Homo sapiens: one gene and its partner. The protein of the gene in region 1 purifies or fractionates together with the protein of each later gene. This does not show direct contact. Each region holds a gene or a part of one and is shown on either strand. Other genes may lie near its edges.

Region 1 (4,103 bases):
CCAGACAAAAGTTTTCAAGACCATCATGACACCAGCTTCTTTGTACAAAGACCACATGTGAACACAATTCCCACTGAAGGGGGTGTGTGGTTTGGTAAGAGTGCAGCTCTAGTGTCCACAAAAGGAGAAAAGTCAGCCCAATGGTGTCACTGTATTGTAAGGTGGGACACCCGTCAGCTTAGGGTGTCTTCTGACTGATGATTCCTTCTTCCCTTTTACTGCCTTGGCACCCTGAGCTCTGCAGTCCCCCCAACCCCCTGCCATGCTGCCTGGGCCCTGTTGGCATCCCTGTGTCTGTCTGGCTCACTGAGCTGAGCACCCTGCAAGAACAGACATTCCTCATGCACCAGTGTCTCTCATGGCTCAAGAGCTTGCTTTGAATGGAGCCCACAGTCATCACTGCTGGGTTGAACTGATTTGTGCAAGCAATAGTGGGTAAACAGGTGGAGTAAATTAGGGTGCATCCCTGCCAACGACTTCAGTGCAGGCACCAAAAACAATGCTTTGAAATGATTTATTCACCTGGGAAAGTGATCACAACTTGCTGCTAATTAAAACCAACAATAGAACAGTGAGTACAATTGAAGTCCATCATTGTTATTATCATAAATATGCACCCAACAAAAAACAAACTAAAAGAAAATACACTCAAAAGCACACAGTGGGCACATTTTGTCTTTGGGTAGTGGAAGTGTAGGTAATGTCAGTGTTTGGGGTTTTTCTTTGAATTTTTAAGCTGTTTTAGAAATAAGTTTTGTTATTAGGAAAATTATTTTTAAAGAAATATACATCTGAGGGAAAAGAGAACAAAGGCATGATAAATAAGGGGTCCTTGGTTGGAGATGATGCATCCAGAACATTTTGGATAAATAAGCTACTTTGAGTTAAGGGCCTTCTCGGCCTCCTACATCAACACAGAATCTCACCCCACCCTCCTAGTAGACACTTTCCTCCCAACCCCCTATCAGCTACAAATACTGTCAGCTTACACAGCAGGCCTTATTATTATTATTATTTTTTTTTTTTGCTGACAAGTCCAAGATGGCAGTCGGAACTCTGACCCATAAAACCAGAAGGCTTAGATGAAGAACAAAAAGAAGGGAAACCAACCCTGCTTCCTTTTGCCTGTTATTAATCGCTGCAATAAAGCCATTAGAATCTACCAACATATCACCCAACTTGAAAAGAAGAGAGATTCTGAAAAATAGTCAGAAAAGAAGGGTAAATGGAAATGATGAGTCCCTCCCCTTTATGGCTATTTTAAGAAGCACACCATGTTATTCATATGGCCCGTGCTTAGCCCACTCCCTGAATTGTTTGATTTTAGTGGATATAAAAATTCTTCCTAAGGGCTTTCTTAGTTCCACTGCCAGCAGTAGTTCCCCATTTCTATTTCTCGTTAGGTCTCAACTCTTCCGTCATGAGTTCTATGTTCCCCAGGATTCCAAGAGCCCAAATCCTGCGGTGGGAGTGAAGGGGAGGCAGATGCTGGCTACTGATTGGCTCTGGGACTCAGAGTGGAGTCACTGTGGAAATCACTATTTCCAAGTTCTTTGGCAGTGGGAGGGTGGCGGGGGGGGGGAGGTGATGGAAGAACAGAAATTCCTCATACATCAGTGTCTCCCATGGCTTAGGAGCTCACTTTGAATGGAGCCCACAGTCACCACTACTGGGTTTAATTGGTTTGTGCAAGCAATAGTGGGAAGTGGGTGACTTTGTTGACAAATGCTAATGGTCACAAATCTGAAATCTTGCTTGAGTCCAAGCCCTTCTCTGGTACACTTAGTCCCAGTCTCTGGAATATTTGGTTTTGCTCATTCATCTTCTTTCTACCAGGGGAGAAGTTCATGGAAAAGACTGAAGCCCCAGAAGCCTCAGAAGCCCCAGGCCACCATTACATTCCCTCTCTATCCCAAGTGGCTGTGACTCCATGCTGTGCCAAGAGTCAGAACCTGGCTGGGAGAGCCAGGCTGCTGGCTCAGTGTGCCTGGCAGGTCACGCCTGCTTATTTTGGGTTGGCCTCCTATGGTCTGAGTCAGAACCCAGCAGAGAGTTCATGCTCCCCTGTGGAGGGAGATGTGGAGCTGACCCTCTCCAGCCTGTCCACGGAGAGGAAGGGGAGCCATTTAACCAGGTGCACAGCCACACGCCTGTGGAACAACTGCCGCAGGTACTTCCGGAACCTCTCACCAACGAAGGCGTAGATCACTGGGTTGACACAGCAGTGCGTGTAGGCGATCACCTCCGTCACTTGCACAGCCAGGTCCAAATGTCTGCTCTGCTCACACTCATGGGTGAACAGGAAGTCTTGGAAAACAGAAATAAGTATAGTCAAATTGTAGGGGGTCCAAAAGAGAAAAAAGATGATCATGATGACAAAAATCAAACGGACAGCTTTGGATTTCTTCTCATTTGGTCGTCTTAGCAGAATCTTTATAATCCCTGTGTAGCAGATGATCATGACCAACAAAGGCAATACCAGCCCAAAGAGGTTCAGTTTCAGAGCCTGAAACAGCTTCCACTCTCGTAGGCTTTCGTGAGGAAAGTGAAGGCTGCAGGTGTGGTGAGTGAATTCCCATTGGGTCTTGGAAAAGTATAAGCCTGGCATGGAAGCCAAGATGGCCAGGGCCCAAATGATGATGCTGGTGATGACACCAAAAGTGACGGTCCGTGCCCGCAAGGCAAACACGGCGTGGACGATGGCCAGGTACCTGTCAATCGTCAGCAGGATGATGAAAAAGATCTCGCTGTACAAGCCTGTGTAATAAAACCCAGAGAGGATCTTACACATGGCATCACCAAAAACCCAGTCATCCTTCAACTTGTAGTCGATCCAGAAGGGAAGCGTGAACAGGAAGAGCAGGTCAGAAATGGCCAGGTTCAGGAGGTAGATGCTGGTCATGTTTTTTAGCCTCTTGTATTGCACAAGGACCAGGACCACCAGGATGTTTCCAACCAGGCCAATGACAAATACCAAGGAGTACAGAGGGGGCAGCAGTTGGGCCCCAAAGGCCCTCTCGTTCACCTTCTGGCACGGAGTTGCATCCCCATAGTCAAACTCTGTGGTCGTGTCATAGTCCTCTGTGGTGTTTGGAGTTTCCATCCCGGCTTCTCCTACAGGTTAAAAAAAAAAAAAAGATTTGTCTTTACTCTGCTACTAAAGGCAGTGGGCACTGGACAGTAAAGACAAGGGAGAGGTAACATTTTTTCAGCCACTCCATAAATGTTTATTGAGTGCCTTCTGTGTACCATGCCCTGGGGACAAAATGGAGTGTTAGAGAGACCCAGATCCTCTCTGCCTTCTAGGAATCTTAGTCTAACAGGGAGTGGAAGCAATAAGTAAATGAGTGCACAAATCATTAATTCAATCATTTCAGCAAAGAGTTTTGTAAGGGATAAGTTCAATGGGTGGAAAGCCAGAGGGAGACCTTACCATACTATTCATAACCAACACTTCCTAAGCACCCCCATGGCCTAGGCACTGGACTTAGGGTTAAAGAGCCCTGGAGGGGTCCCATTGTTGTTCTTATTTAAGAGGTGATGAAACAGAGGTTCAGAGTGGTTAGGAAACATGTTCAAGGACACACCTCTTGTGAGAACAGACCTGGAGCTCCAACCCAGCTGTGCATCATTCTCATGCCCGGCCCTGACACCACTACGCTTTCCTGCTGCTGTCCCCGAGCAGTAGCTTTGCACTGTGGAGCCCACAGGAGGACTCTGAGAAGGAAAATGGTCCTGGCTCAGAGAAAGATACAAACAGATATTCATGGCTTTTGGTCTAAGAAGATTCTCAGCCGAGAGTGACCTAGTACCCTTGGGGCACTTGGAAATGTGTGGGCATTTGTTGTTGTTGTCACCAAAACTGGGGGATGCTACCGTCATTTGGTAGGCAGGGCCAAGGATGTCCTACAGTGCAGAGATCATTCTACCCCAAACACCAGTGGTGTTGCCATAGTGAAATCCTAGTAGGTCAACCCCATTATTTTGGAGATGAGGACACTGAGGGCACCAGAGTGGGCTGAGCCTGACCCACATTGCACAGTCCTTAGGTGGCACAGGTAGATCTAAGGTCACTTTGCAGACCTCCTGAAGGAGAGGAAAGT
Region 2 (3,500 bases), on another chromosome or scaffold:
ACGATAGGTCCTCAGGATGTCTTTGAACAACTTGCTGTTCATGGGCTGCCTCAAGCCACAGTGCCTTTGCACACGCTCTTGTCTTTCTCTCCTGGCAGTGCCCACCACACTTCCAGCCCTATGCAGGCCCCTCCTCTCTCCCAGGCACAGCTTGCTCTTGGTCTTGTGGTCTCATACAGCCCTTTGTACAGACTGACTATGGCCTGGATCTCAGGTGTTAGACTTTACTCTTGAAAGGATCTGGCTTCCCAGCTAGTCTGGGCGCTCTGGTCAGGGTAGGAACTGGATGTTACTTTCTGGAACTCTTTCTTTTTTTTTTGGGTTGGAGTCTTGCTCTGTCACCCAGGCTGGAGTGCAGTGGCGTGATCTCGGCTCACTGCAAGCTCCGCCTCCCAGGTTCACGTCATTCTCCTGCCTCAGCCTCCTGAGTAGCTGGTACTACAGGTGCCCGCCACCATGCCCGGCTAATTTTTTTCTTTGTATTTTTTAGTACAGACGGGGTTTCACCGTATTAGCCAGGATGGTCTCGATCTCCTGACCTCGTGATCTGCCTGCCTCGGCCTCCCAAAGTGCTGGGATTACAGGCGTGAGCCACCGCGCCCAGCCTCTGGATCTTTTTTGTTGTGAGCAGATGCTTGGCTTCTTGTTAGCGCCTTCACCTGTGCCTGAGTTGGTCTCTTCTCTGCCCAGATAAGGTGTACCTCGGCCCCCCACGCCTCTTCCAGGAGCTGCAGGACCTGCAGAAGGACCTGGCCGTGGTGGAGCAGATCACGCTTCTCATCAGCACGCTGCACGGCACCTACCAGGTACGTGGCCTGGCCTGACCTTTTTGGCCTGAGCTCCCCAGTGTGGGCAGTGCCTGGATTCAGAAAGCTGAGTAGGGAGGGGCTCCTCTCCTGGCCCATGTCCCCGATGTGCTCCTAGCTTCTGAGCTCCTGTTGGCAACTGTCGCTGCTGAAGCTCCATGTCCCTGCCTGGAAGTCTCTTTTGCGGCCGCTGGTTCGGGCGCATCCTCTGGTTTGGGTTGAGTGGAGCCTGGCTGTGGGGCCTTTGTTTGTTCTCTGCACAGTGGCCATTCCGTTATGTGGCCCCTCCTGGGCCTCTACCCAGTGTGGAGGGGAAGCTGGCTGCGACGGCATGTCCCTCTCAGAGGAGGGCTCCAGGTGGGATCTGAGCCCAGGGCTGGGAAGCCTGGGGCATGGCGAGTTGGCCTCCTGCGTGGGGCTAAATGTGCAGCCTCAGTGAGGCTCCAGGACTTCTTCAGTTTCTCTTCCTCTGGGGTGCTGTGATTCCTATAGGATCTGGTGTGGCTTTTGGGGAGCCAGTGTGCTGTGTGGTGACCTCATTGGCCTCCTGAACCCTAGAACCTGAACATGACTGTGGCTCAAGACTGGTGCCTGGCCCTGCAGAGGCTGATGCGGGTGAAGGAGGAAGAGATCCACTCGGCCAACAAGTGCCGTCTCAGGCTCCTGCTTCCTGGGAAACCCGACAAGTGAGAGGAGGGGGTCTTGGAGGGAGGGCTGCTGCCTCTGCTGGGCTTCCAGTGGAGCAGGGGATCCGGAGAGGGTACCTGGAGCCCTCTTATTTGTCGAGATGCCATGGTGGGAGTGGATATGTAGGCATCGTGGGCCATGTCTGGGATAGCATCTGGCACGCAGTAGGTGCTCATGAAAAGACTGTGGAATGAATGAATGAATTAATGAACAGCCTGGTCATGTCCTGGATAAGCCTGGCCCACTGTTAGGATACTCAGACACTCTGCCATTGGTCAGTTCCATTTGCGCTGTGTCCTTTTCAGTCACTTCAGCCTATCTAGGCCCCCAGGCCAGGCCCTGGGTTTCCTCTCTCTGGACCCAGCCTCCCCCCAGCACCACCTTAGCCCCAGAATGCCCACCACAGGAGCTGTGCACAGTAGACCCCAACTGAGGTTTGTGGAACTGATGACAGCCATAGCTGCTCGGCCTGGCAGAGACAGGGAACGGGATCTTTCTGGTCCTCCTGAGGCTTTGTAAGTTGGGTCTTTTTATTTCCATTTTACAGATGAGGAAGGTGAGGCTCAGAGTTTCAGGAGAGGCTGAAGGCCACATCGTGAGAGACAGAGCTGGGTCCTGATGAGGTCTGACTCTGAAGCCCAGGCCAGTGCAATGAGGGGGCTCAATGCCCAGGTTTTGGCCTCCAGGGTGGGGTGAAGGTGGGGATAGAGTGTCACAAGCACAGTGGCTGCAAGGAAGAGAAGGTTGGAGCACTATCATTTGAGGTAGGACCATGGGCTCAGTCCCCCAGGGGACCATGTGTAGGAGTCAGCAGCTTTGAATCTGCCGCCTCCCTGTTGAGTGGCCTGTCCGTCTCCCTTCCTCCATCTCCCTTCTCTCTGCCTCTCATTCTCCACGTGCACCCTAGAGGCTTGTGACACTGCCCTGCCCACCTCCCAAAGGGCTGGGAAGGCCCCCACTGCTCTGAGGTGAGAGGACAGCGTGGTGACAACAGCAACCTCTGGTTGCCCCAAGCTGGTGCTTAACCTGATTCATTCATTTCTTCATTCATTCCTGTGTCCACTCAGCAAACATTTACTGAGCAACTGTCCCATGCCAGGTGCTGGGAACAGACCCAAGTGAGACCCATTCCTCCCTCTAGAGGCACGTGGTCAGACATGTAAGGTGTCTAAGACCTGTGGACAGCTGACCGCTGACCAGGTGGAGTCACAGCCTGCAGAGGCTCTGCCGGGCACAAAGCCAGAGGCTCCTGGAGCCAGGCTGGGGAGCGTGGCTCAGCCACCCTGGCCAGGTACCTCCCTCTGGGGGTCATTGTGGGCGGAGGGATTCCTCCCCCAGGGGACCGAGGCTTTGCCAAGCCACTGACCTCTTTGGCCACGTTTTGGGGATGCTCTGACCAGACCTCCTTGATCTCCAGGGCGCGTGGGTTGGAGGAAGTACTACGTGACAGCTGGGGGAGCCTGGCCCTTGTGTGGGTACTCACACATCCACTCTAACCCTTCTCACCACAGGTCCGGCCGCCCCATTAGCTTCATGGTGGTTTTCATCACCCCCAACCCCCTGAGCAAGATTTCCTGGGTCAACAGGTTACATTTGGCCAAAATCGGACTCCGTGAGTATAGCCCCAGGGAGAGTGCCTCAGGGGGCAGGGGTGTGGAACGGGGAGGTTTGGGGTGAGTGAGGGTACAGGATGGGTGTTCGGGGTCAGCGGGGGGCAGGGAGGCTTCTGAGTGGGAGGGAGGTGGTGCGGTGGAGAAACAGCTGGGGCCAGAGCCGGAGGCTCTGCTTTGTGACCCTGGACAAGTCACTTCCCCTCTCTGAGCCTCAGCTTCCCCATCCAGGAATTGATGGAACTTGACAGAAAGTAAATTAGTGGTTGCCAGGGACCTGAGAGGAGAGGATAATGGAGAATGACTGCTAGACTGCTAGGGGTTTTGGTGGAGGTGATGAAAATGTTCTAAAATTAGATGGTGGTGATTGCTCAACTCTGTGACTACACCAAAAATC

The links. The genes of interacting proteins can lie anywhere in the genome.
Region 2: the proteins of CCR1 (region 1) and ARHGEF10L purify together in Homo sapiens (affinity purification with mass spectrometry; one large-scale study listed by BioGRID and IntAct). This does not show direct contact.

Annotation. Positions count from the first base shown.
Region 1 is NC_000003.12:46,201,211-46,205,313, forward strand, and holds the end of CCR1 (C-C chemokine receptor type 1), read right to left. Parts: intron 3,115-4,103; 5' UTR 3,104-3,114; coding exon 2,036-3,103; 3' UTR 501-2,035; downstream 1-500. UniProt on the Homo sapiens protein: Chemokine receptor that plays a crucial role in regulating immune cell migration, inflammation, and immune responses.
Region 2 is NC_000001.11:17,637,198-17,640,697, forward strand, and holds part of ARHGEF10L (rho guanine nucleotide exchange factor 10-like protein), read left to right. Parts: intron 1-690; coding exon 691-806; intron 807-1,364; coding exon 1,365-1,492; intron 1,493-2,040; coding exon of another isoform or gene 2,041-2,044; exon of another isoform or gene 2,045-2,634; coding exon of another isoform or gene 2,635-2,656; exon of another isoform or gene 2,657-2,784; intron 2,785-3,004; coding exon 3,005-3,105; intron 3,106-3,500.